7 linked regions of the Homo sapiens genome follow. The protein of the gene in region 7 interacts with the protein of the main gene of each other region in a pairwise test. Each region holds a gene or a part of one and is shown on either strand. Other genes may lie near its edges.

Region 1 (3,500 bases), on a different chromosome or scaffold from region 7:
CTACAAAAATAAAAAGAAAAGAAAAATTAGTCAGGCATGGTAGCACATGCCTGTTGTCCGAGCTACTCCAGAGGCTGAGGTGGGAGAATCGCTTGTGCCTGGGAGATCAAGGCTGCAGAGAGCCATGGTCACGCCACTGCACTTCAGCCTGGGTGACAGAGTGAAACCCTGTCTTGAAAATAAAATAAAATCACAAAATCAGATTGAGAGGCCTGGTGAATTTGCCCTTGAATGATAGTTATAGAATAAACTGATTTATATATACATAGTACTGTAAATATCCTCTGCTTATTAGATCTTTTAAGAAATGCTTTTGCTGGGCACGGTGGCTCACGCCTTTAATCCCAGCACTTTGGGAGGCAGAGGTGGGCGGATCACGAGGTCAGGAGTTTGAGACCAGCCTGGCCAACATGGTGAAACCTTGTCTCTATTAAAAATACAAAAAAAATTAGCTGGGCATGGTGGTGCACACCTGTGATCCCAGCTACTCAGGAGGCTGAGGCAGGAGAATCATCTGAGGAAGGAGAATTGCTTGAATCCAGGAGGCGGAGGTTGCAGTGAGCTGAGATTGCACCACTGCACTCCATACTGGGTGACAGAGTGAGACTCGCCTCAAAAAAAAGAAAAAAAAAAAAAGCTTTCATATCCCTGGTTAAAAATTATTTTGAGTCTACTAAGAAAAAGATACAGGGACGTGAAAAGCCAAATTATGAGTTACATTAACCAGAAAGCCAGATTATGAATTATATTAAAAAGTTTTCAAATTACTTTATTGAATAAATATGGATTTTGTAGAAACTGAAAAGTTTTGTATTTTACTTCAAATTTTAAAAATACAAATAAAAAATACGATATAGACAGATATATTTCTAATTAACCAAAGAAGAGAACAGAAGATGAAGAGGCATTCTACTTAGTTCACTAGAGTCTGATGTAAAATCTGTTGGCTTGGGTAAAAAGTGGTACTACACTAAGGAATCCAGTCTAGGGCATACCAAAACTTTCTAGTCCCATATGTTTCTGATAAAAAAAATAACCAGAGGCTGCCTTTTCCCAAGGGGGCCCTGTGATTCAGGCCAAAAATTCCATAGCTCTAAACTTCAACTGCCAAACTGCATACCAAACAAGAAATACTCTGAATTACTTTTTAACCAAAGTGATACAGATAATTAGAACCAGATGTCTTATTCAACACTACATATTAAATTGTACATTAATATATGTTCCTGTATTTTATTTACCTGCTGAGTGAGATGGAAAGATCTATAAAGAGGTCACAGTAGCATCTAAACTCACAGGTTAGGGATCAAAGCCACAGGAATGACAGAAGGCAATTTTTAAGGTTGATATTGGTAGAAAATGGTCTAATTTATAAAGGAGGGAGAGGAGGCTGCATATATTTAAAGTACCTAATGTGAAAACATGTACAAAGGATGTCAATTTCAGCACTTTTTCTTTTCTTTTTTTTTGAGACGAAGTCTCACTCTGTAGCCAGGCTAGAGTACAGTGGCGTGATCTTGGCTTACTGCAACCTCCGCCTCCCAGGTTCAAGCGATTCTCCTGCCTCAGCCTCCAGAGTAGCTGGGATTACAGGTACACGCCACTGCACCCAGCTCATTTTTTGTATTTTTAGTAGAGATGGCGTTTCACCATGTTGGCCAGGCTGGTCTTGAACTCCCGACCTCAGGTAATCCGCCCACCTCGGCCTCCCAAAGTGCTAATTACAGGCGTGAGCCACCGTACCCGGCCTCAGCACTGTTTATGATAGTAAAAGACTGGGAAGGGCCATAAGGAAGTGATTAAATAAATTGTGTTACACCCATACGGTGGAACAGTGTGGAGACGTATCACACTGGAATATCATGCAGTTGGATCTACTTGTGCTGCGGCGGAACTAGCTCCAGAATATCGTAAGCAAAGAAGCAAGGTGCAGGACAGTAAACACAGTATGGGAGGGAAGGAGGTTCATTTTTAATTAATTAAAGAAGAGGATAAATACTATTTTAAACAATACCTGGTGGTATCTTCTTAGCAGTCCCTTTTTTGCTTCTTGGACTTCTTTTTCCAGGAATTTTTTTGTCCTTTCCCAAGAAGGCCTGTTCATCTCTGGAGGCTTCACAAAGGGTGTTTTGCAAGTTCTCACCTGCAGCCACCTCGCAGCTCAATGTGCAGCTTTCATTATTATTGAGACTGTCCTGCTCAGACACTTGGGGCTTTCCCATCGCACTGTCACTGCTGGTCAGATGCTCATGCCCGTCCCCGTCAAGCTGATTTTCATTTTCATCTGATGCAGAAGGCAGACAGGTCACACTCCTTTCCACGCTGTCACCAGGATGACATCCATCTTGTGGTTCTATTTGCAGATAATATGTAGGAGTATCGCTGTCATCCATTAGAGCATCCTTTGGTGAACCATTTAAAGTTACATTAAAGACCTTCCATGTCTACAATGACAAAAAGAAAAAAGCTACTTCATTTTCTAACCTTTGCAGATTCTCAGTGATCTTTGATTTTCCCCTTCTCTTAGGTTGTTTCATTGTAAATAGGGAAGAGAAGGAAATGACTTAAGTTCATTCCCTTTCACCATATGCAACCCAACCCCAAACTCAGCTAGTTCTCACATGAATACTACAGGTGTCAAGCCTGTCTCCTCATGATGATCACCTGAGAGGCTGCCCAAATTCTATTCTAGACCATTACATCAGAATCTCTGAGGATGGAACCTAGGCACCACTATTTTTCAAGTTCTCTAGGTAAGTCTAATGTGCATCAGGTTGGGACCACTGCCTGAATGAAATGACTAGTTAAATAGGTTATGTGCTGAAATTAGTCTCTTATGTTAATCCCTGGACACTCAGCAGACAACTGAAAGCTAGTTGTATAAGTTCTTCTCTGGCTAAACAGCAGCAATATTTGGAAATGAAAATGTTTGAAGATTTTAAAAAAAAATAACCTAGAAAAAAGTATGTGAGGGGAAGTTTAGGTAGCATATATTTATACTATCGTTTTATTTTTTATTTCCTAAAAATAAGCCCTGGAAGGTACCTTAGAGTTGTCATCAAAATCCTTTTGAACACTTAAAAAAAAAAAAAAAAAGGCCATGGTTAACTCTAGGCTACTCTTAGTGTAGAATTGGAAGAAATGCTAAATCTGCTTGAAGGATACCACTAATATTTTTAAAATTTACAAAACAGACTGCAAGCCCTTTATCAGTCATCTTTTATTTCCTCTTATTATCTACAAGTGTATTACATTTTAAGAAAAATGATAGGTATGAAAGAAATAATCCAGTAATTCTGGAAAAAAACCTCAGTGAGAGGACTTCTAAAGATTCTTCAACTTAATGAGTAGAAATGCTTAATCTTTAGAAACATGTAAAGTACAGTCTCTAAAACCATGAAAAGTACAAGATAAAATATTCACCCTATACCATTAAGGAAGGAGACCACCACTTCTCCTGCTGCCCTCCTCTCTCCCACTTTTGCCTAGTTTATAAGACA
Region 2 (3,500 bases), on a different chromosome or scaffold from region 7:
GTTCAGTACCTATAAAGGAATAATTTAAAATTCATATTTATATAATATACCAAAAAAGTGGCTTATTTTCTTGCTGCATGCGTTTGCCATAACTGTAATGTTCTTCATAGTATCTTCATATTCTTTATAAAAAAGGAAGTCAACTAACCTAATTTCATTCTAATAGAGACATAGCAGTAACTGCTGGTAAGTATGTACTTATTTGGAAAGTGACTTACTCAAAATTACACAGTAACTGAGTAGTGAAACTAAGCTCTGAAATCTGTTGATGCTGTGAAGGTGTAAGTAATGAACACAGTTTGGCATCACAGAGAAATCATTGGTGTAATTATGTAACTTTTCAGTCAAGAATTAAGCATTTACTAAACTACTTTATAGTTTTTATAGCTAAAGAAAAGAAGAAATATTCCTGAGTTTATAACACAAGGTTACTTTATGTATCATATTTTAAAAAGAAGTTCTCATGTGTATACTTGTGTACTGAGTAAAATTATAATTGTAAATTTTTACTGTTCAAAGATAATCCTTTTTTTTTTTCCTTTTTTTTTTTTTTGTTTTAGCTGGAGTCTCACTCTGTCGCCCAGGCTGGAGTCCAGTGGCATGATCTCCGCTCACTGCAAGGCGCCTCCGCCTCCTGGGCCCAAGGGATTCTCCTGCCTCAGCCTCTCAAATAACTGGGATTACAGATGCGCTCTACCACGCCTGGCTAATTTTTTTTGTATTTTTAGTAGAGACTAGGTTTCACCATGTTGGCCGGGCTGGTCTCGATCTCCTGACCTCAGGTGATCCACTCACCTCAGCCTCCCAAAGTGCTGGGATTACAGGCTTGAGCCACCATGCTGGCCTATTTTCTAACTTTTAATTATGTTGTAACCCTTCCATACTGACATCAACAAACAGACGTCGTATCTAACTGTCAAGGCAACATGACTACTACAACAGTAATGTCTGTAAGAGTCCATGTTCCATCTCTCTCAATCACTATAGCCAATTACTTGAGCAAAGAGCAGTGGGCTGGGGGCAATGGCTCATCCTGTAATAATCCCAGCACTTTAGGAGGCCAAGGTGGGCCGATGGCTGAGTCCTGGAGTTCAAGGCCAACTTGAGCAACAGGGAAAAAACCCATCTCTACAAAAAATAAAAAAATTAGCCAGGCATGGTGGCGTGTCTATAGTCCCAGCTGCTTGGGAGTCTGAAGTGGGAGGATCACCCGAGCCTGGGAGGACAAGGGTGCAGTGAGCCAAGACCACGTCACTGCACTCTAGCCTGGGTGACAGAGTGAGACCCTGTCTCAGAGAGAAAAAATTTTAAAAGCTGTGAATAATCCAAAATAATGCATTATTTCTAAGTCTGAAAATAAGCACACATTCATACTTTATCTCCTGTTATTAAATCTCAACCTCCTTCCATCCCTACAAATTGACAGTTAACAGTCTAAGACCCAGCTAGGTAAGAGAGGAAGTAAATGCAGAAATTTCACAAGGGTAATTCAACTGACCATTTCTCTCAATTATATCACTGTTTTTAGAGTTGACAAACATCAACTACTATGCACTGACTTTCTAAGATCTTAAGACACAACGTAACAGGAGGTTTTATCTAAAATTAACAATTCTAGAATGTCAAATTAGAAAATTAGACAGCATATATGTTAAAATTGCTAACTTACGAGAAGTCTGAATGAAGCAGTTAAATTCTAAAATCAGAAATTATATCCAGGAGGTCAAGTACTTCATAACATTAAATAATACATAGGAAAGAAAAAAGGTTATAAAATTTAAAAACACGGCCGGGCGCGGTGGCTGACGCCTGTAATCCCAGCACTTTGGGAGGCCGAGGCGGGCGGATCACGAGGTCAGGAGATGGAGACCATCCTGGCTAACACAGTGAAACCCCGTCTCTACTAAAAATACAAAAAATAAGCCGGGCGAGGTGGCAGGCGCCTGTAGTCCCAGCTACGCGGGAGACTGAGGCAGGAGAACGGCATGAAGCCCGGGGATTGGAGCCTGCAGTGAGCCGAGATCGCACCACTGCACTCCAGCCTGGGCGACAGCGAGACTCTGTCTCAAAAAAATAAAATAAAATAAAATTTTAAAAAAGCATTTAACAACAACAACAAAAAATTCAATTTTAGGATTCACCTGAGAAAAGAATACCTCAATACTGCTACACTTTCAAAAATGTTTAGAATCACATAAAAATTCACTTCAATAAAAGAATGCTTCTGCAGTTTGGGGATAAAAGTTTCTACCAAATAATCAGTCCCTAAAACGCTAAAACTAAAAATTTGCTACAAGAAACTTTTCATGTAATATTTAAAGATTTTTAGAATTACCAAAATTAAATGTAGATCTGTTTAACTCCTATCAATTTTAGGTATCACCACAAATATAACATTCTCTTAATGATGGTTTCTTAAGACTGGGCACATAGGCTCACGCCTGTAATGCCAGGATTTGGGGAGGCCAAGGCAGGTGACTGCTTGAGCCCAGGAGTTCCAGACCAGCCTGGGCAACATAGTGAAACCTGTCTCTACAAAATACAAAAACCTGTAGTCACAGCTACTCAGGAGGCTGAGATGGAAAAGATCACTTGAGCCCAGGGAGGTTGAAACTGCAGCAAGCCGAGACAGCGCCACTGCACTCCAGCCTGGGTGACACAGTGAGACCCTGTCTCCAAAAAAGAAAAGGTTTCTTAAAACATAATTTAACTGTAATCTTACTTGGTGATACATTACTTTTTTCTAGGAAGAAACAATAGGAAGGAAAAGAAAAAAAGAAAATGAGTAAAGAATGTCTCAAAGGGATCACATAAGTCTGAAAACCACTATCTTGAATTGTATATGGCAGAACTCTAGCAATATTAGGGAGTAGAGCGTCCCCAGCATTTACAGGTGTGCCAGAATATTGATCTCCCATCCCGGGAGTTTCATGAGGTGCTGCCTGCCAGGTGCTTCTAGCCTCCCAATCTCATCTACTTTAGTGTACTATTCAAAACTTACTTTCTATGTGGGCAGAACCTAAAAGATGGTTGAGACGCACTGACAGAATACATTAAAGCAGTTACTAGCTCAACTTTAAAATACATACTCTCCAATAAGAAATTCAAAGTCTACCCTTACTTGTTTTACTCATTACCAAGTAATGAAATCCCATGTTACATTTGTATAATATGGCATTTTAAAAAAAATACAGTTCCTCTTAGAGCTTAAGTAACTTCAGCAGCAGCAGCAACATCCTGGTGTGGGTTAGATAAATCTACTAAAAGCTTTTTGGGTTAAGGACATGGTCATTCCATGTTACAGCTTATTTTTTCCTAATCGAAATCCCCAAATGATCAATTTCCTAGTCTTCTTCCATGCTTTTTCTCCACTGCACTATCACCTTCTAATATAATAACACACTTGGCCGCGTGCAGTGGCTCACACCTGTAATCCTAGTACTTTGGGAGGCCGAGGCGAGTGGATCGCCTGAGGTCAGGAGTTCAAGACCAGCCTGGCC
Region 3 (2,874 bases), on a different chromosome or scaffold from region 7:
AGCAAGAACCTGTCTCAGAAAAAAATAAAAAATCAGAGAAGTCATAGAGTAGGTTGTTTGGGAAACAAAGGCAAATGACCCCAATAAAGGTTCCTGGCAGCTCTAGCCTGCGGAGTTTATGACATTCCCAGCAAGCTGCTCTCTATTCTACAGAAACCTGGTGATTAACTGGCCTATTTGGAGGATTCTTTCTGTATCATAAATAGGATCCCAGCACTTTGGGAGGCCGAGGCAGGAGAATCACTTGAGCCTAGGTGTTTGAGACCAGCTTGAGCAACATAGTGAGACCCTATCTTCACAAAAAGTAAAATATTAGCCAGGCGTGGTGGCGCTTGCCTGTAGTCCCAGCTACTCAGGAGGCTGAGGTGGGAGGATCACTTGAGCCTGGGACGGGAGGTCAAGGCTGCAGTGAGCTGTGGTCATTCCACTAGGCTCCAGCCAGGGCGACAGAGCAAAACCCCATCTAAGAAAAGGAAGAAAAAGAAAAAGATTTCCCTGAGTGCAACCACATTATATTCTAACATGTTGATTTCTTTCTGTTTCTAGCTGATTATATAGTCATGCAGTTTGGACGTGTGGCAGATGACGTGTTCACACTGGATTACAACTACCCACTTTGTGCAGTACAGGCCTTTGGCATCGGTCTTTCTAGCTTTGACAGTAAGCTGGCGTGTGAATGAGAGAACAGTCAGGCAGGGAGCCCTTCTCCCCACAGAGCTTTCAGGAGCAGACAGTGGCCTCCCCTTCCCCTCCCTGCCCCAGGACTTAAAGAGCAATAGTTTGCCCCTTTTGGAATGATCTCTGAATATATAAAACACACACACAAAGAGCAATAGTTTGCCCCTTTTGGAACGACCCCTGAATATATAAAACACACACACGAAGAGCAATAGTTTGCCCCTTTTGGAACGACCCCTGAATATATAAAACACACACGAAGAGCAATAGTTTGCCCCTTTTGGAACGACCCCTGAATATATAAAACACACACACGAAGAGCAATAGTTTGCCCCTTTTGGAACGACCCCTGAATATATAAAACACACACACACCCCGCGCACTCTCACTCCTTTTCCAGGTTTCATAGACTTGGTGAGGGATCACAGCTTAGCATGGGTGAGAGATGATTTAAAGCACAGGGAGATTCTTGTCACATTGGGGTCTCCAAAGCTAGAATGGGATTTCATGTGCTTGGAAACTTGCAGTAGAATCAGGGACTGACATCGCAGTTCCTCTCCTCTCTTCATTCCCTCACAGCAGATTGGCCGGCACCAATCTTAGTCAAGAGTGGCTGTGATCACATTTGTGATCAATTATGTGAGAATTTTATATAATTGTCTTCATTTCAATTAAGGCTGAAAGCATAAACTCTAGAGGTGACTCAGTCAGGACTGACAGTAATGTGATAATTGCCTTCATTTTCAACCCAGGAGTGCCTCTCACAGCTATATGACTACGGATCCATTAGTGAGGAGCGACACACACACCTGTAGGCATCCTGTGCAAACACTTTGTCATTATCAAGAGAGATGGCAGTATTGACCATTTAGTTTAGTTAAAAAAAAAAAAAAAAAGGTGGCAGGAGAGGCTTTGGGGAGGATCAGCCAGCAGACATGAGCACTGCTGGCCCGTGTGGCAGAGCTGTGGACTTTCTTCTCGGCTCCCTCAACCCTGGCTCAGGCACAGAAGGTGTTTTGCTACGTTTTTTTGATTATTACACCCCTCCACGTATTATGTGACTCTTACACCAGTTCACCCTTCCCAGAATGTATCCAAACCTTGAGAATGCAGGAGCTCTGTGAGCTCCACCGTCAGCACCATTCAGCTGCATCCCTTGTGCACAGAACTGTTTGCCAGCGTTGGGTGGGACACCCGTGGCGGCTGCTCCCTCAGACCTCCCTTCTGTGGACTGACCTCTCACCTCCGCCTGTTGTTCCTGCACCACATCAGATAAGCATGTGAAGGAGGGCCAACTGGCAGCTGCGGGACCCTTGGCTTGTCCCCCACCGACAAGTCCCACCTGCTGGGTGAGGACGAGACTGTTTCCATCTCAGGCATGTATCCCACCAAGTGCCTCCCTCACAGCCATGCCCAGAAGCCTCACACCTCGTCACCACCACCACCCCCCACCCCATCCTGAGGCACTGCCTGGCAGATAACCCTGGTTGGCCACAGAAGCTATTAATACACGACAGCATGTGGGGAAGGACTTATGGTGGGCCAGGTGGACCTCATCCTGCTTCTTCCTCCCTCTGGTTTAAAGAGATATATAAACTAATTTCACATAATTTGTGTGTGCAGGTGATTGGTTTTTACATAAGTCCTATTTATACCTTTTATATGTTACAGAAATAAAAGTTAATTTATATAAAAATGTGTCACTGCCTTTGCAAGTCCTATGCCTCAGGAAGTTCCTACTGTCATGTTATATAATCATAATTGTCATCTTGGGCCACGTGCAGTGGCTCACGCCTATAATCCCAGCACTTTGGGAGGTTGTGGCAGGCGGATCACCTGAGGCCAGGAGTTGGAGACCAGCCTGGCCAACACGGCAAAACCCTATCTCTACTAAAAATACCAAAATTAGCTAGGTGTGGTGGTGCATGTCTGTAATCCCAGCTACTCAGGAGGCTGAGGCATGAGAATCACTTGAACCTGGGAGGCTGAGGTTGCAGTGAGCAGAGATCACACCATTGCACGCCACCCTGGGCCACAGAGTGAGACCCTCGCCTCAAAAAAAGAAAAAAAAATGTTTTGGTAACACATCAGTTCTGTAAAACCAGGTGATTACTAACAAACTTCTCATCCTGATGTAGAGCAGGAATCTGCAGACTAAGAAGGCTGTGTTCCGGAGGCTACCTAGACACACTATAC
Region 4 (3,500 bases), on a different chromosome or scaffold from region 7:
GGTGTAAGCCACTGCGCCTGGCCTCTCCTCCCCATTTTATAGATTGAGGAGTTGGCTTGTCCGATGGCAGAGCTGGGGCTACAACCTAGCATACTTGCTCCCAGGCTAGTCCTCTTGGTTAATAAGCAGCATTCCTTATCATTTGTGCCTTACTATTTGGAAAGCAGGGTCCCACTATTGAGAACTGATGGAGCCCGGACTGACCCCCAGTTTTGTGCTGCTTTTACTGTGTTGTGGCCTCCCAGTGCCTTTTCTTAGTGTATCTGGTTGATTTTGTCTAACGCCATTCTGGTTCATCCACAAAGTTAAATCCCCAGACATTTCTTGTGGGTGGCTCAGAACTTTACTGAATGTAGGTTAAACCGCAGATTTGTGTCAGGCTCTGTGAGACTTGTAGGATCATTCAGCCACAGGAGAATATTTTCTGTGCCGTTATCCACAGACATTCATCAGGAGCCCTGTGTGAGCCCAACCTATTGCTGGGAACCAGGGAAGCTCTCTTCAGGATGGCTGAGCACCATCCCAGCCCTAGAGAACCAGGAGACTTTTCTGAGAGATGTGGTCCACATGCCGAAGCTGGGGAGTGATCCAAAATGGTCTGGGGTTGAATGCAGAAATGAGTAGATGTGAATGAGCTTCAGCATCAGGGATTAATGCTGTGGGAGAAATGAAGGTAGCCTACATCTGTGGTTTGCTCTTGGTTAGGCACTGATTCCTGGAGTCTGCCTGAGACTAGGACTTACCCGTGGTCCACAGCACGGTATCCCATCCTGACTTTCTGTTAATGGTATGACTTAAAGAGGTTATTGCACCTATGGGATGGCTTAACCGGAGTGATTCTGGCCTCTTTTGGTAGGGTAACTAAAGCCCGTAGAGTTAGCTGCAGGACCACAGTACCCTGTTGAATTCATCCTCTCCCCCTCCCTTGCCAGACTGAAGAAGCTTTGTAAGAACTAAGGCAGAGAGGTTCTTTGGGAAGAGAAATTGGAGAATTTAGGGTCATGGTATCTCAGATCCTAACCCTGTTCTCCAGTATGGCCTTCTTGGCTGGCTCAGCAGGCTTCTGTTGAACTCAGCAAGCTGCCTGTGCCCAGCCCTTCATCACTGTAGTGAGGATCCTGCTCACATCTCTCAAGGGAAAAGGGACCAGAAAAGTGATAGCTGGGGAGCTTGCGAGTGTCTTGACCATCTGAATTTGTCTTGACAATAGAAATGAAGACAGAGATGAAGCAAGGAGCACCCACCAGCTTCCTCCCGCCTGAAGCTTCTCAACTCAAGCCAGACAGGCAGCAATTCCAGAGTCGAAAGAGGCCTTATGAAGAAAACCGGGGACGGGGGTACTTTGAGCACCGAGAGGATAGGAGGTGGGTGTATGAGGCAGCAGTCACCCTTGCTCTGGTAGGTTTCTATATCCATAGCCTCGTGCTTGCTGGGGACATTTGCACTAACCTAGAGGGGCTGAGTAAAGATTCCCTCTGCTTTCACACTCTTCCTGTCCCTTCCCGTACTTGCTACCAGATTCAGCTTTCCTAAACTTTTGGTCCTTCCCCCAGTTCCTCCCTTCTTACCTGCAGGGTAACTTCTAAATATCTTAGACTTTCACGCGTGAGATGCCAGCCTGCCTGTTCTGTCCTTTGCCTTACTGCCCCTGCAGTCAGCTGCTTGATACCCGTAATGAAAGAAATATCTGTTTCCTAACACTACTCCCAAATACACATCCTCTTCCCATTCATCCACTCATTCAGTCAGTTCTCACAGTGCTGTCACGAAGTGCCCACTCTTGGGCTGGACACTAGCAACATACAGATGGACAGTGGGTTTTGCCTTCTGTTGTTCCAGTGTGGGGACTCAGACACATACACTAGTAAGCCACAACCTCTGAGGTGAGTAGTCAGGATGCAGGTGAGTTTCAGGAGTTCAGAAGAGGGAGCAGCCTCTGCTTTGGTCATTTCCCTTCCCTAACAAGCCCTTCCCTCCTTTCCCTCCAGACCAAGTCCTTCCCTTCCCTCCTTCCTTCCTTCAGTTCCTGTCTGAAGCCTTTTGCAATTATGAAAACTAGGAATGGCCACTGTACTCATCTGGACTAGTCATCTGACATTCTATTTCCTATCTGGCGGAGTCCACCTTCTAACTAGCTTGTTACTGTCTGAGACAGGGCCTGGATCTCACAGGCTATGATTTAAGTTAGGACATGGATCCCACCTCATATGGGGTTCTTCCACTGCCTCCCACAGAGCAGAAGCCTGGAAGCTACTTACTGATGGAGAGCAAAGGAAGAACACTCGCTCTGATCCTGGGCTGGCAGGGAAAGTTTCCTAGAATGGACTTAACATGTGATGAGCACAGCTCATCCATGTTAGCCCTGGCCTGGCGAGGCCAGAGGGGCCCTCCACCAGAGGGAAGCCTGCTGCTGGGAGAGTCAGCAGCCAAATGGGCATGGGCTCCCCATCTGTGCATGCAGTGCACTGCGACCACCCAGACTGTCCAGGCAGGACCCTGAGTGTTAGATTCTACCTTTCTACCCTTCTTCCTCGTTCCTGTACAGCAGAAACCAACAGTGTTAAGTCCCTTTTTTAGCGTTTTGGTAGGAAAATGAATATCGTTTATAATTTAGGACACTGAAAAAAATGGGTCATCTCAAATTCTTACAGATGTAGGATTTTAAGAAGCCTGGTACATGGATAGATAGTAATTATTGGGATTTATATAGGCTCTTGCACATTCCCCTTCCTGGCCAGCACCCTTTTGGGATACCACAGCCTCCAAACAGTAACAGAGATCAGTGTGGAAGTGGTTGTCAACATGCAGAGGGTATGGATCAGAATCTTTGGGTGTAAAAAAAGAGTGAAAAAATTCCCTAAATGATTCTGATGCCCCCCTTCAGCAGAGCATGCCTTCTTCAATCCCTGTCTCCACCGTAGGAGTTGACGGTCATTGCTCTCCTTGCAAGGATGTAGGGTTTCAGAGTTCTTTTGCCCACCTCTGTGGAAGGAAATGGAGATTCAGGAAGCAGTCTGGAGGCCACTCATAGATTACAGCAGAACATTCATTTTCTTTCCTTTGTGCTCATCCATTGTTCTTGTATGACTTAACCCCTGTTTCTAATACAGGGGCCGCTCTCCTCAGCCTCCTGCTGAAGAGGATGAAGATGACTTTGATGATACCCTTGTTGCTATTGACACCTGTAAGTCTTTGGAGTGTGCATCTAATTCTGCCTTACAGTCAGTATGGGGAAATTGTGGTCTTGACCTTCACCAGAATCCCTGCTGGGCACCGTCCAAAGACATTGTTAGTCCACATGTGAGACACGGCTTAGCTCTGGAGCAAGAGTACTGGTTTGGAGGCAAAAGACCTACTCCCAACTCTAGCAGTGGGACCCTGGGCAAGTCATTCTACTTCTCTGAGCTTCCCTTCAGGAAGGAGTAAATCTGCTGTACTAACCTCAGAGGATTTTCAGGGAGACTCCTCAGTGGATATAGGAGCAATCTGGAAAACCCTGA
Region 5 (3,500 bases), on a different chromosome or scaffold from region 7:
GTGGTGTTTCTTTGGAGCAAAAAAAAAAAAAAATCTGCTCTTCAAACATAATTTGCCACCTTATTCTTCTCAAGGGGCAACAGCTTGAAATTAAAACTAAATTTGAAATTAATGAAGCACATTCTGGAGGTGGCATTCATTTCTAAAGTAATAAATTACTTGTATCAACCTCAGAGACAGCAGTTCCTGTCTGTCAATTAATATGTCTTATGCTTCTCCTACCCCTAATGCATTTCTTAACAGACAGATTCACAATTTAAATTAAGCAAGCATTTTTTACTCATTACATTTTTGAGGCTCAATCTTTAATAAATATAAAGTATAAAAACATCAATAAAATTTTTACCAAGTAAAAAGAAAAGTACGTCCATTGTAATAAGGGAAAAACAAGATTTTGTGGCTTTTTTTTTTTCTTTCTTCCTTCTGGAAAAGCAGGTCTCAGAAAAGCTTAGAGGTAGGTTTCCTGGCAGGGATAGGTGTGGGTTCGTTCCAGTTGAGAGGAAATACCCTGACCAGCTACCACCCAGCCCCCAGCCCTGTCCCCCATGTGAACACTCAGCCGTTCTCAGCCACCTGTGCACACACACTCTCCATGCAGAATTATGTCACAACAAGTTCAGGAAAATTGGTATGCGGTGCTCATTCCTGATGTATAAATATATACAAGACCTTCCAGTGGACCTTACAAATGTCAAAGTGTTTGCTCTTTAGACTACTTTGTCAATATTTACTCAGTATAAGCTTCATGGGCATCCAACAGAGATCCTGTCTTTCTGGAAGCGATGTAACTGGGATGTAAATCCAGCATGCATTCCCACGCAGGTGGAGGGCAGGCCACGCGCCTGCAGGTTCTGGAAGATGCACGTCCAGAGACACAGAGCCCAGAGAATACTTGCGTTAATGCAACAGGGTGTTTTTTTTGTTTTTGTTTTTGTTTTCATTCTCTTGCATTCGGTGACTTGGGTTATTCCTTACTAAACTGATCTGCCACTGCATACTGCATCAGGGTAGTTTTTTGGACAGTGAGGAGTGGCCAGCCCTGTGGCTAGGAACAATTTCAAGGTAAAGGAAAAGGAGAAATAAAGTGACTTTGTCCTGTCAGCTTCTAAATACTTGTTTGCTTCAAAAGGCCAGTGGGGAAGTGTGTTAAGTGGTTGGAACGTTGCAGTGCTAATTGCAAGGCTGATTTCTACAAAAAGCTCTTAAGAAAGGAAGGGAAGTTTTGTTTGTGGAATTGACTCCACCAGCTTTAAAGATTTGCCCCTGTTCCATTTCACATCAGAAAACCAACAACAACAATAAACAAACAAACAAACAAAAACAGTGAAATGAGTCCCTTGAAGTCAAGCAGATAGGCCCCCCTCATTCCTTCCAGGACAGGTGTGATTCTTTTGCTCCTAAGCCCCCTACTTTGAGTGCCAAGATTCCTAAGCCAAGACACATGGAATCCCAACACTGATGTAATGTGAACTTGGATGGGAACTGCCCCAGGTACACACATCAGCTGCAGGGAGGGGGATACTTCTGCTCATTTGCCAACTACTAAGCAAGAGTCTTGTCCAGGAGCCATGGATGTTCTTTACAAATGACCAGAAGAGAGTGCCCTGCTGCAGTCAGCTGAGTGTGAAGTGCTGTGGGGAACCTCAAGTTTAAGGCCATGCACTTTGAGATGACAAATAAAGACAGCAAAAGCTCTGTTCCTAGGGCCAAGACCAAATGCTTAGGGAAATACGGCGCTGGCCAATGGAGGCTCCTGTGCTAGCCACAGTGAAGACTGTGAATGCATGTGTTGGAAAAGAATAGGAAAAGAAAAAGAAAAGAAGACATCTCACTCTCCCTCACCTGCCCCCCGACAGACTTCCTCGGCATGCAGCACATTCTAGAAATCTGGACTCAAAACTCCAATGGAGTGGCAGGCCTGGAGGAAGAACAGCCGAGGTAGAATAACCAAGTGTCCCAATTTGCCTGGAGCTGTCCTGGTTTCAGCACTGAATGTCTTGCATCCTGGGAATTTACTCAGTCTTATGCAAACTGAAGGATGGCTTGTTACCCTAGCTGGGGCACACAGTATGACTGAGGTCAGAGCATCCAGGTGGGTCTGCAACCTCTCTTATAATCCTCTCGGGGAACAGCTGGAGCAGAGTAGGCTGGGTTTAGCTAGACACAGCCCACTGTCTGCAGAAGTGCACCGGGTGCATGCATATATGATGTTTCCATAGTACGGTTTTATTGTAAACGGGGAAAGAGGAGGAAATCCCATGGCTGGTGTCCCTCCCACTGAGACTCAAGGAAATGCCCAGGCCTGTGTAGATGGGTGAAGATATCAAAGCCCCTTCTGTCCTGGAGATGCCTCTTGGAGCCACAGTCTGCAATACAAACCCCACACCCTGGGGATTTTGCTCCTATTACAGTGGCTCCCATGAAATTAAGTCTGAGAGAGAAATGGCCCCACAGCAGCCACTACGAGAGGACACCAGCAGCCAGAAGCAGCAGAGCCAATAGTGGACATGAAAGAGTCCTCTGTGGGTGAAGGCCACCAGGTGAGAGGGAAACCCAGGGGCTCTGCCAGCCCACATTCCACCCAGGGGCAATGCATCTCCCCATGGCCAGAGCCTTCCCCACCCCCACTGCACAAGCACCAAACCAGCCCAGGCCGTCCGGAGCACCCCTCCCCAACACATGCACCATGAATGATATGACCAGCTCCTCTCCTGGGCTGGCCCACAACACGCTCTGATATGCTTTGTAAACTACACAGCAGGGTCAGAATGTCATCAGTCTGATGACTGAGGAGGAAATTAATATGGAAAGAAAAGGCCAACCTCTCAACCTCCCTGGTGGAACAAGATCCAACTCAGAGGAGAATTAAAAGGCTCTGGTGCCAAGCAGAACTGGGTCCTGGAGAGACCTGGCCTCACCGCACACCCCACTCCTGACCATGTCATGGTTTCTGAGGGTTCTTTCAAGCGCACACCCTCGTGGCTGTGACGTGGGCCTCACTCCCTGTTCAAATGACCATTTTCTTTTCCGATCTGAAGGTGAGAAGTATTTCCTTAGGTGGAGCCTAAGACTTTTACCCACTGGTTCTCCCCTCCACATTAAAATAAAGGGAAGGGCTGGGCGCAGTGGCTCATTCCTGTAATCCCAGCACTTTGGGAGGCCAAGGCAGGCAGACTGCCTGAGCTCAGGAGTTTGAGACCACCTTCGGCAACATGGTAAAACCCCATCTCTACTAAAATACAAAAAAATTAGCCAGACATGGTGGCACATGCCTGCAGTCCCAGTTACTCCAGAGGCTGAGGCAGGCGAATCACTTGAACCCGGAGGTGGAGGGTGCAAGTGAGCCATGACCCACCACTGCACTCTAGCCTGGGCAACAAAGCAAAATCCTATCTCCAAAAATAAATACATAAAAATAAAGGGAAAATTCCCATCTTCCACCATGCTTTGCAATAATTTCACTACTCTGAGAATATTTATACTCTTGATTACTGAACTTT
Region 6 (3,500 bases), on a different chromosome or scaffold from region 7:
CCAGCCCGGCTAACATGGTGAAACCCCGTTTCTACTAAAAATACAAAAAATTGGCGAGGCGTGCTGGTACACAGCTGTAATCCCAGCTACTCGGGAGGCTGAGGCAGGAGAATCGCTTGAACCCAGGAGGCGGAGGTTGCAGTGAGCCGAGATCACACCACTGCACTCCAGCTTGGGCAACAAGAGCAAAACTCTGTCTCAAACAAACAAACAAATACAAAAATTAGCTGGGTGCAGTGGTGGCACATGCCTGTAATCCCAGCTACTTGGGAGGTGAAGCAGGAGAATCACTTGAACCTGGGAGGCAGAGGTTGCAGTGAGCCCAGATTGCACCACTGCACTCCAGTCTGGGGTGATGATTGAGACTCTGCCTCAACAAAATAAAAATAATAATATATTTAGACATATTATAAGAGTAGTCATCTAGCATCCTCAGAAAATAGCTAAGCAAATATAAGTTATTTTCTCTTTTGCCAGATTCATCCCAAATGTTCAGATGTTTAAGAGTGATTACATAGGAGAATACATAAGAAATTGGTAACAGTGGTTTCTTCCAGAAGAGAAAGCTAGAAGACTAAAGGAAGAGGGGAAGGAGACTTTTTTGCTGTATACCTTTTCGTATTTTTAAATTCTTTTAATTTTTCACCTTTTAACCTATCATACACACAGACTAAAATTTTTCTTTTAGTATCATTTATATGGATATTAAAACATATAGAAATTGGTGTAACCAGCATTATATAGTCAGATACAGAACAGTTCCATCATCCCAAAAGACTCTCTCATGTCATAGATACATTTCCCCATCCATAACCTCTTATACCTTTGAAATTCTGGTTCATGTGCATGTGGTTTCTAGTTTTTTTGGTTTCTCTGTGTTTTAAATTTTTTTTCCTGTTTTTTAATTTTTTTTTTTTTTTTTTTTTTTTTGAGACAGGGTGTCACTCTATCACCCAGGGTGGAGTGCCGTGTCACAATCAGAGCTCACTGCAGCGTTAACCTCCCCAGGCTCAGGTGATCAGGTGATCCTCCCATCTCAGCCTCCCAAGTAGCTGGGACTACAGGCAGGCCCCACCACACCCAGATAATTTTTTTGTATTTTTCTGTAGAAATGATGTTTTACCATATTGACCAGGATGGTCTCAAACTCCTCAGTTCAAGCAATCCACCAGCCTCAACTTCCCAAAGTGCTAGGATTATAGGTGTGAGCCACCATGCCCAGCCTCTATTTTTTTAAATGCAGTTAAAAATAAAGGGAAAAAAAAAATCAAGTCATTTTATCTTTCCATTTTAAATGTTATCACTAGACAGTCGGTGGTGACAGAATTTGGGTTTAGGACATAATCCCAAAAGACACAATCCCAAATGCCATAATCCCAAATGTTGAAATCCCAAAAGATCAAAATCCCTAAAATCTAAAATTCCAAAAATCACAATCCCAAAAGAACAAAATCCAAAAAATTGAATTCTGGAAAAATAATTTGTAAAAAGTTCTCTAAAAGACACTTATTTCCATTTTTAAAAGATTTATTTGAGAAACATAAAAACACAACGGAACAGTTCATAGGCCCCTTTACACAATAAAATAGGCACTAATAACATATTTTTGCAAGCATAAATACTCAGGTATACTAACAACCATTGCATGGGTATAATAGGAACAGAGAAAATGTATTCATGAAGAAATAGATTAAAAAGCAAAATGGATAAACACGTATCACTATGGTTGGTAATCAGGTGCACCCAGATTCATAACTGCGGTCATCTGAAATACCAGACAACCTGAATCTTCTGACAAGATCGATCAAAAACTGCAATGGGTCACTACCGTTTGCACAAAAACTGCAATAGAGTCACCCAAAGAGCCAAGATCTTGAGAAATTTTATCTTTCACAAATACAGATGAACAAAACGGACATCTCTTCATTTACTGAGCAAGTTTCAACATTTTTATGTACATGCACAATGCTTACACATTACGTCACATTGTGATAATGCACTTTCATGGAGTCAAATATGCAAAAAAAAAGTGCATAAAATGAATTAGAATTCTCTAAAAGCCTTTACAGAATTTATACCTGCAGTATTAGAAATGATGCAAAGATAAAATACATAGCATAGCAAATTGGCACTATGTGTGAAAGGGCAGAAGTCATACCTGATTGAATAATTTGGCAGGGGAGCTTTCTTATATTTTTCACCTGCATATTCACTTCTATGATCTTCAAAACATTCACTTGTGTTTAGACTAGAGCGGTTGTGGTCTAAATATTTTGTAAGTATATGCTGACCATTTAGAAATCTGGTTATTGCTTGGCCATTGCAATTAAGTGATTTTCTGTCTTCACAACACCAATAATAATTAGCTTTTAAACTTTTCTCTTTCAGCATTAAGTAGCCTGGTATACTTAATTTATCACAGCCTTTTTGCAAGGGAACAATTTCACAGGTCTCTTCCACTGTGCTGTAAGGAATACAGTAAGAAGGAATGATATTTGGCTTTCTCAATACCAAATCCGTATTAGTCAGCATTCTCGACAGACATAATTCTCGACAGACAGCATTCTTGAGAGACATAACCAATAAGATATATATATACATAGATATATGAGAGACGATTTATTAGGGGAATTGGCTCATGCGATTATAGTGGCTGATAAGTTCCAGGACAGGTCATTTTCAAGCTGGAGACCCTGGCATGCTGGTAGCTTGGCTCAGTCCAAAGACCTCAGAACCAAGCCAAACCAGGTCTCAGTCTGAGGCTGAAAGCCCAGGACCCAGGGGGCTGCTGGTGTATGTCCTAGAGTCCAAATGCCAACAAGCCTGGAGTTCTGATGTTCAATTCAGCAGAAGAAAAGTCCGTTCCAGCTCTCAGAAAGGCAACAATTTGTTTTCTCTGGGCCCCCAGCAGATTTAATGGTGGCCACCGCTATTGAGGGCAGATCTTCCCCACCTAGTCCACTCAGACTCACATACTAATCTCCTCACAGACAAACCCAAAATAATGCTTTAACAAGTTTCTAGGTATTTCTTAATCCAGTCAAGTTGACACCTAAAATTAAATCCATGAATCCACCCCTCGTCAATTTGGCACCCATAAACCATCTCCTTAAACCATACTTAATTTCCAAATAAATACAATAAAAAGGCAATCGGTTCCACCTAATATGATGCAAGTAAAATGATGCAACTATCTTTCATACAACCGAATGTGCACTAATTTCTACCCCAGGTGTTGGCTTTCAGCATTTCAACATTTGGGATTTTAATCTTTCATGATTCTGATTTTCAGGATTTCAGATGTGTGAGATTTTTAGAATTTAGGGATTCTGATTTTTAGAGATTTTGATCTTTCAGTATTTCAACATTTGGGATTATGGCATTAGGGATTTGGTCTTTTGGGGATATGATCACCAGTAGAATTTAGACAGTCATGAGGCTAAGTCTCCAAAAATTTAACCTTTGTGCACCCTTTCTCAGGAACCTACTGGAGAATATAT
Region 7 (3,305 bases):
CAGCACCCCATGGGAGAGGGCAACAGAACAAAGCATTAGGGGTGCAGAGGGTTGTTTTTGTTCATTTGTTTGTTTTTTACAGAAACAGGGTGAGCTGTGGGTGGAAATTATAATGTTCAGAGTGTGCTTGCAAATCTACCCCAAACCATTCTCCCACTGACCTCATCTCACATGCATGATTTACCATCCTCCCAGACAGCCTCATATATACTAGTTGGCCCCATGCCTGCCCTCCCACCTGCTCTGAATTAAGTGAAAGTGAGTAGAAGATGCAGTGTTTCACAACAATTTCCATGAGAGGACCCCCAGGGGCAGAGGAGAGGAAAGGAAGGTGGCCTGCCTCAAACTCAATTTTTTTTGACATCATGTATTGAAGATTCTGTTTTATAAAATAACAATGCTTATTAAATGTAAAGAATCAAATTTGAAATATTAACTCAATTAAAATTAATAATTATTACAAATTATGTTTAAATTACTTGCCATCAAGTAAAACTATCACTCAAGGAAGAGTTTATTCACATCCTCAGTACCTCCTGACATAGACTTACGCTCCTGGGTAACACACACCACAGTTAGAGAAGCCTCATCTAGGCAATCATTCTGTTCTGGGAGAGGATGAGAGGAGAACAGCAGACATCAACTGCTAAGGCAGGACAAGTCTCCTCTACTAATCATGTGGGAAGATACAGCAGCTGCTTTTTCACTCACCCTAAGTCACCACTCAGAACTGATCTTTCACTGATCCCTGGAAGAGTGTCAGGATGATCCGTACATCATCAGTTTCAGTAAACCACCAAGATCTGTTGGTGACCTTCATTTCACAACTCTTTTGCTTGTAACATTTATTCAAAGGGTGGGTTATTTAAAGACATGAGATGAGTTCTGAGCATGCTCCTTTAATGTTCAAGTTTCATTGCAAGGAGGGTTTGCTTCTGTAGTAACCCTTCTATTAAAATTCCTGGCACTCATTGTCAACCAATATTTCCCCAGCAATAAAAGGGTTAGTATTATGTAGTATGAAATAAAGCACTAGCTGATTCTATTTAGATGGACCCAGATGCTTTAGAGGAACGTTTATCTTGATGTTTAAGAACATTTTTCCAGTATCTTCCTGGGACTCCATTTTCCTGGGGAAATTACCCTTCTCCTACCTTCTTCTCCTCTACTGTGTCATTGCCACAAGTATCCTGCTGGACTATATAGGCTAGACCATCTATCTCAGCCCTTTAGAGATAAGACTGGAGGGTAATAAGAAGAAATAATTCTAATTATATAGAATGCAAATCAACTTCCCTCCTTTAGTGAGGTTATTCGGGCTAAAGTAACAAATATCTTAAAGTACTTAGGAATGTATAAATTTAATTCCTTGAGTAGTCTTCCAACAAAGAAAGAAAAGAAATAAAGATACCCAATACTTAATATTTTTTAGAATGAATTAGTGACATTTGAATGTAAAAATTTCAAGCTTTCTAGAATCTTAAATTGTTCCCACTTCATTTTATAAGAGCAATATTTTTGTTTTCTTTCTTGTATCTAAACCGATCTCAGGAATATTGCCTGGAAGAGTAACTTTCTCCTCATTTTATCTAACTTTTATAGACTATTACCAAAACTCTCAAGATAGTGTGTGAGGTCTTATCATGTGACCATAATGGTGGGTCGCCCCGGATCCCGTTCAGCACCTTCCAGTTTCTCTACACGTATATTGCCAAAGTGGATGGGGAGATCTCTGCATCACATGTCAGCAGGATGCTAAACTACATGGAACAGGAAGTGTAAGTTAACTTTTGTCAAGTGGAGGTGAAAGAATACCAGGAAAAGAAATCTAGCTGGCCAAGATAGTGAGATTATTGTATTATACTGCTCTGGAAACAGAAAAGTATTGTGAGAAACATGAAATATGGATGATCTGAAAGAAAACGGGAAAGGGAAGGAGAAGAGGAAGGAAAAGAATGATATAGGAAAACAATTCTTTCAGTGCTACTGAGACTAGCAGTAGCGGCAGCAGCACCTAAGAAGATGTTAGAAATGCAGAATCTCAGGCTACACCCTGGACCTATGGAATCATAAACTCTAGGGCCAGAGCCCAGGAATCTGTGTATTTATAAGCCCCCCTAGTAACTCTGACTCACGCTTAGCTATGACCAGTGGAACAGAAGTGGAGAAGGAGGAGGAGGAGAAGCAGGCAGTCAAAGGTTAAAAGAAAAAGAGGGCCGGTCATGGCGGCTCACACCTGTAACCCTAGGGTGGGTGGATGGCTTTAGCTCAGGAGTTCAAGACCGGCCTGGGCAATCTGGTGAAACCCTGTCTTTACTAAAAATACAAAAATTAGCTAGGCGTGGTGGTATGTGTCTGTATCAGTTAATTGGGAGAATAGCTTGAGCCCAGGAGGCAGAGGTTGCAGTGAGCCAAGATTGCACCAGTTACTCCAGCCTGGATGACAGAGCCAGACCCTGTCTCAGAAAACAAAACAAAACAAAAAAAGAGAAAAAGGAGCAACAGCAGAATTAATGTGAAATGAGAGTTGTTTGCATATTGTCTTTCTTAAGATTAACTGTCAATGAACTAACTGCAGATATACCTTTTTCCAAACAGAATTGGCCCTGATGGTATAATCACAGTGAATGACTTTACCCAAAACCCCAGGGTTCAGCTGGAGTAAAAGCACAATTTTGGCAATTTTAAAGGAAGATACAGAGATGATTGTACTTCAGAATGACTGAAACCCATATACCACCCAAAATCAATTTTCTTGTACAACTGGTACACACTAATAAACAATTAAACATATGAGATCAGAAATGTGCAGAATTAAGATGTGAAATTGTTGGAACAAAACACCTTCATTACCAGATTAGTATTCTTCCCACATGGACACTGAGTAAAAGTGGCTGACAAAGCATGGATAGAAAATGCATCTTCAATCAAAGCCAGACTGTCAGATTTTAAAAGGTAGTATGTTAACCAGACACAGTGTTGTTGTTCTGTGATTGTTAGGCATAATTTAGATGAGTGTCTTTTATATGGTCAATTGAAGTTTTTACCAGTTTATTTCTCCATTTGTTGGTACTGTGCTAGTCATTCATTCATCCTCTCACTCATCAATATTTATTGAGGTTAGCTATGTGCCAGGAATAGGGTTGCAAGAAATAAATACAGGACACCCAGTTAAATTTGAATTTCAGACAAACAACAAATATGTTTTGTTTTGGTTTTTGCTAAACCTGGCAGCATTCCAGGAACTATGCTGGCTTCTGAGCACATACAAATAAATAATATCAGAATTCTGCCTTCAAGGAGCT

The links.
Region 1: the proteins of ROPN1 (region 7) and CNST interact in binary tests that used the Homo sapiens proteins (3 or more experiments, as listed by UniProt).
Region 2: the proteins of ROPN1 (region 7) and UBE2W interact in binary tests that used the Homo sapiens proteins (3 or more experiments, as listed by UniProt).
Region 3: the proteins of ROPN1 (region 7) and TULP3 interact in binary tests that used the Homo sapiens proteins (3 or more experiments, as listed by UniProt).
Region 4: the proteins of ROPN1 (region 7) and HNRNPUL1 interact in a two-hybrid assay, tested with the Homo sapiens proteins (2 studies listed by BioGRID and IntAct).
Region 5: the proteins of ROPN1 (region 7) and TSHZ3 interact in binary tests that used the Homo sapiens proteins (3 or more experiments, as listed by UniProt).
Region 6: the proteins of ROPN1 (region 7) and PRKAA1 interact in binary tests that used the Homo sapiens proteins (3 or more experiments, as listed by UniProt).

The regions. Positions count from the first base shown.
Region 1 is NC_000001.11:246,590,456-246,593,955, reverse strand, and holds part of CNST (consortin), read right to left. Parts: intron 2,445-3,500; coding exon of another isoform or gene 2,394-2,444; coding exon 2,015-2,393; intron 1-2,014. UniProt on the Homo sapiens protein: Required for targeting of connexins to the plasma membrane.
Region 2 is NC_000008.11:73,872,363-73,875,862, forward strand, and holds part of UBE2W (ubiquitin-conjugating enzyme E2 W), read right to left. Parts: intron 1-3,500. UniProt on the Homo sapiens protein: Accepts ubiquitin from the E1 complex and catalyzes its covalent attachment to other proteins.
Region 3 is NC_000012.12:2,938,765-2,941,638, forward strand, and holds the end of TULP3 (tubby-related protein 3), read left to right. Parts: intron 1-546; coding exon 547-680; 3' UTR 681-1,765; coding exon of another isoform or gene 1,766-1,962; 3' UTR 1,963-2,374; downstream 2,375-2,874. UniProt on the Homo sapiens protein: Negative regulator of the Shh signaling transduction pathway: recruited to primary cilia via association with the IFT complex A (IFT-A) and is required for recruitment of G protein-coupled receptor GPR161 to cilia, a promoter of PKA-dependent basal repression machinery in Shh signaling.
Region 4 is NC_000019.10:41,270,872-41,274,371, forward strand, and holds part of HNRNPUL1 (heterogeneous nuclear ribonucleoprotein U-like protein 1), read left to right. Parts: intron 1-1,210; coding exon 1,211-1,364; intron 1,365-3,110; coding exon 3,111-3,184; intron 3,185-3,500.
Region 5 is NC_000019.10:31,279,937-31,283,436, forward strand, and holds part of TSHZ3 (teashirt homolog 3), read right to left. Parts: intron 1-3,500. UniProt on the Homo sapiens protein: Transcriptional regulator involved in developmental processes. Functions in association with APBB1, SET and HDAC factors as a transcriptional repressor, that inhibits the expression of CASP4.
Region 6 is NC_000005.10:40,777,875-40,781,374, forward strand, and holds part of PRKAA1 (5'-AMP-activated protein kinase catalytic subunit alpha-1), read right to left. Parts: exon of another isoform or gene 3,481-3,500; intron 2,465-3,480; exon of another isoform or gene 2,208-2,464; coding exon of another isoform or gene 2,159-2,207; intron 1-2,158. UniProt on the Homo sapiens protein: Catalytic subunit of AMP-activated protein kinase (AMPK), an energy sensor protein kinase that plays a key role in regulating cellular energy metabolism.
Region 7 is NC_000003.12:123,968,515-123,971,819, reverse strand, and holds the end of ROPN1 (ropporin-1A), read left to right. Parts: intron 1-1,602; coding exon 1,603-1,778; intron 1,779-2,598; coding exon 2,599-2,665; 3' UTR 2,666-2,805; downstream 2,806-3,305. UniProt on the Homo sapiens protein: Important for male fertility. With ROPN1L, involved in fibrous sheath integrity and sperm motility, plays a role in PKA-dependent signaling processes required for spermatozoa capacitation.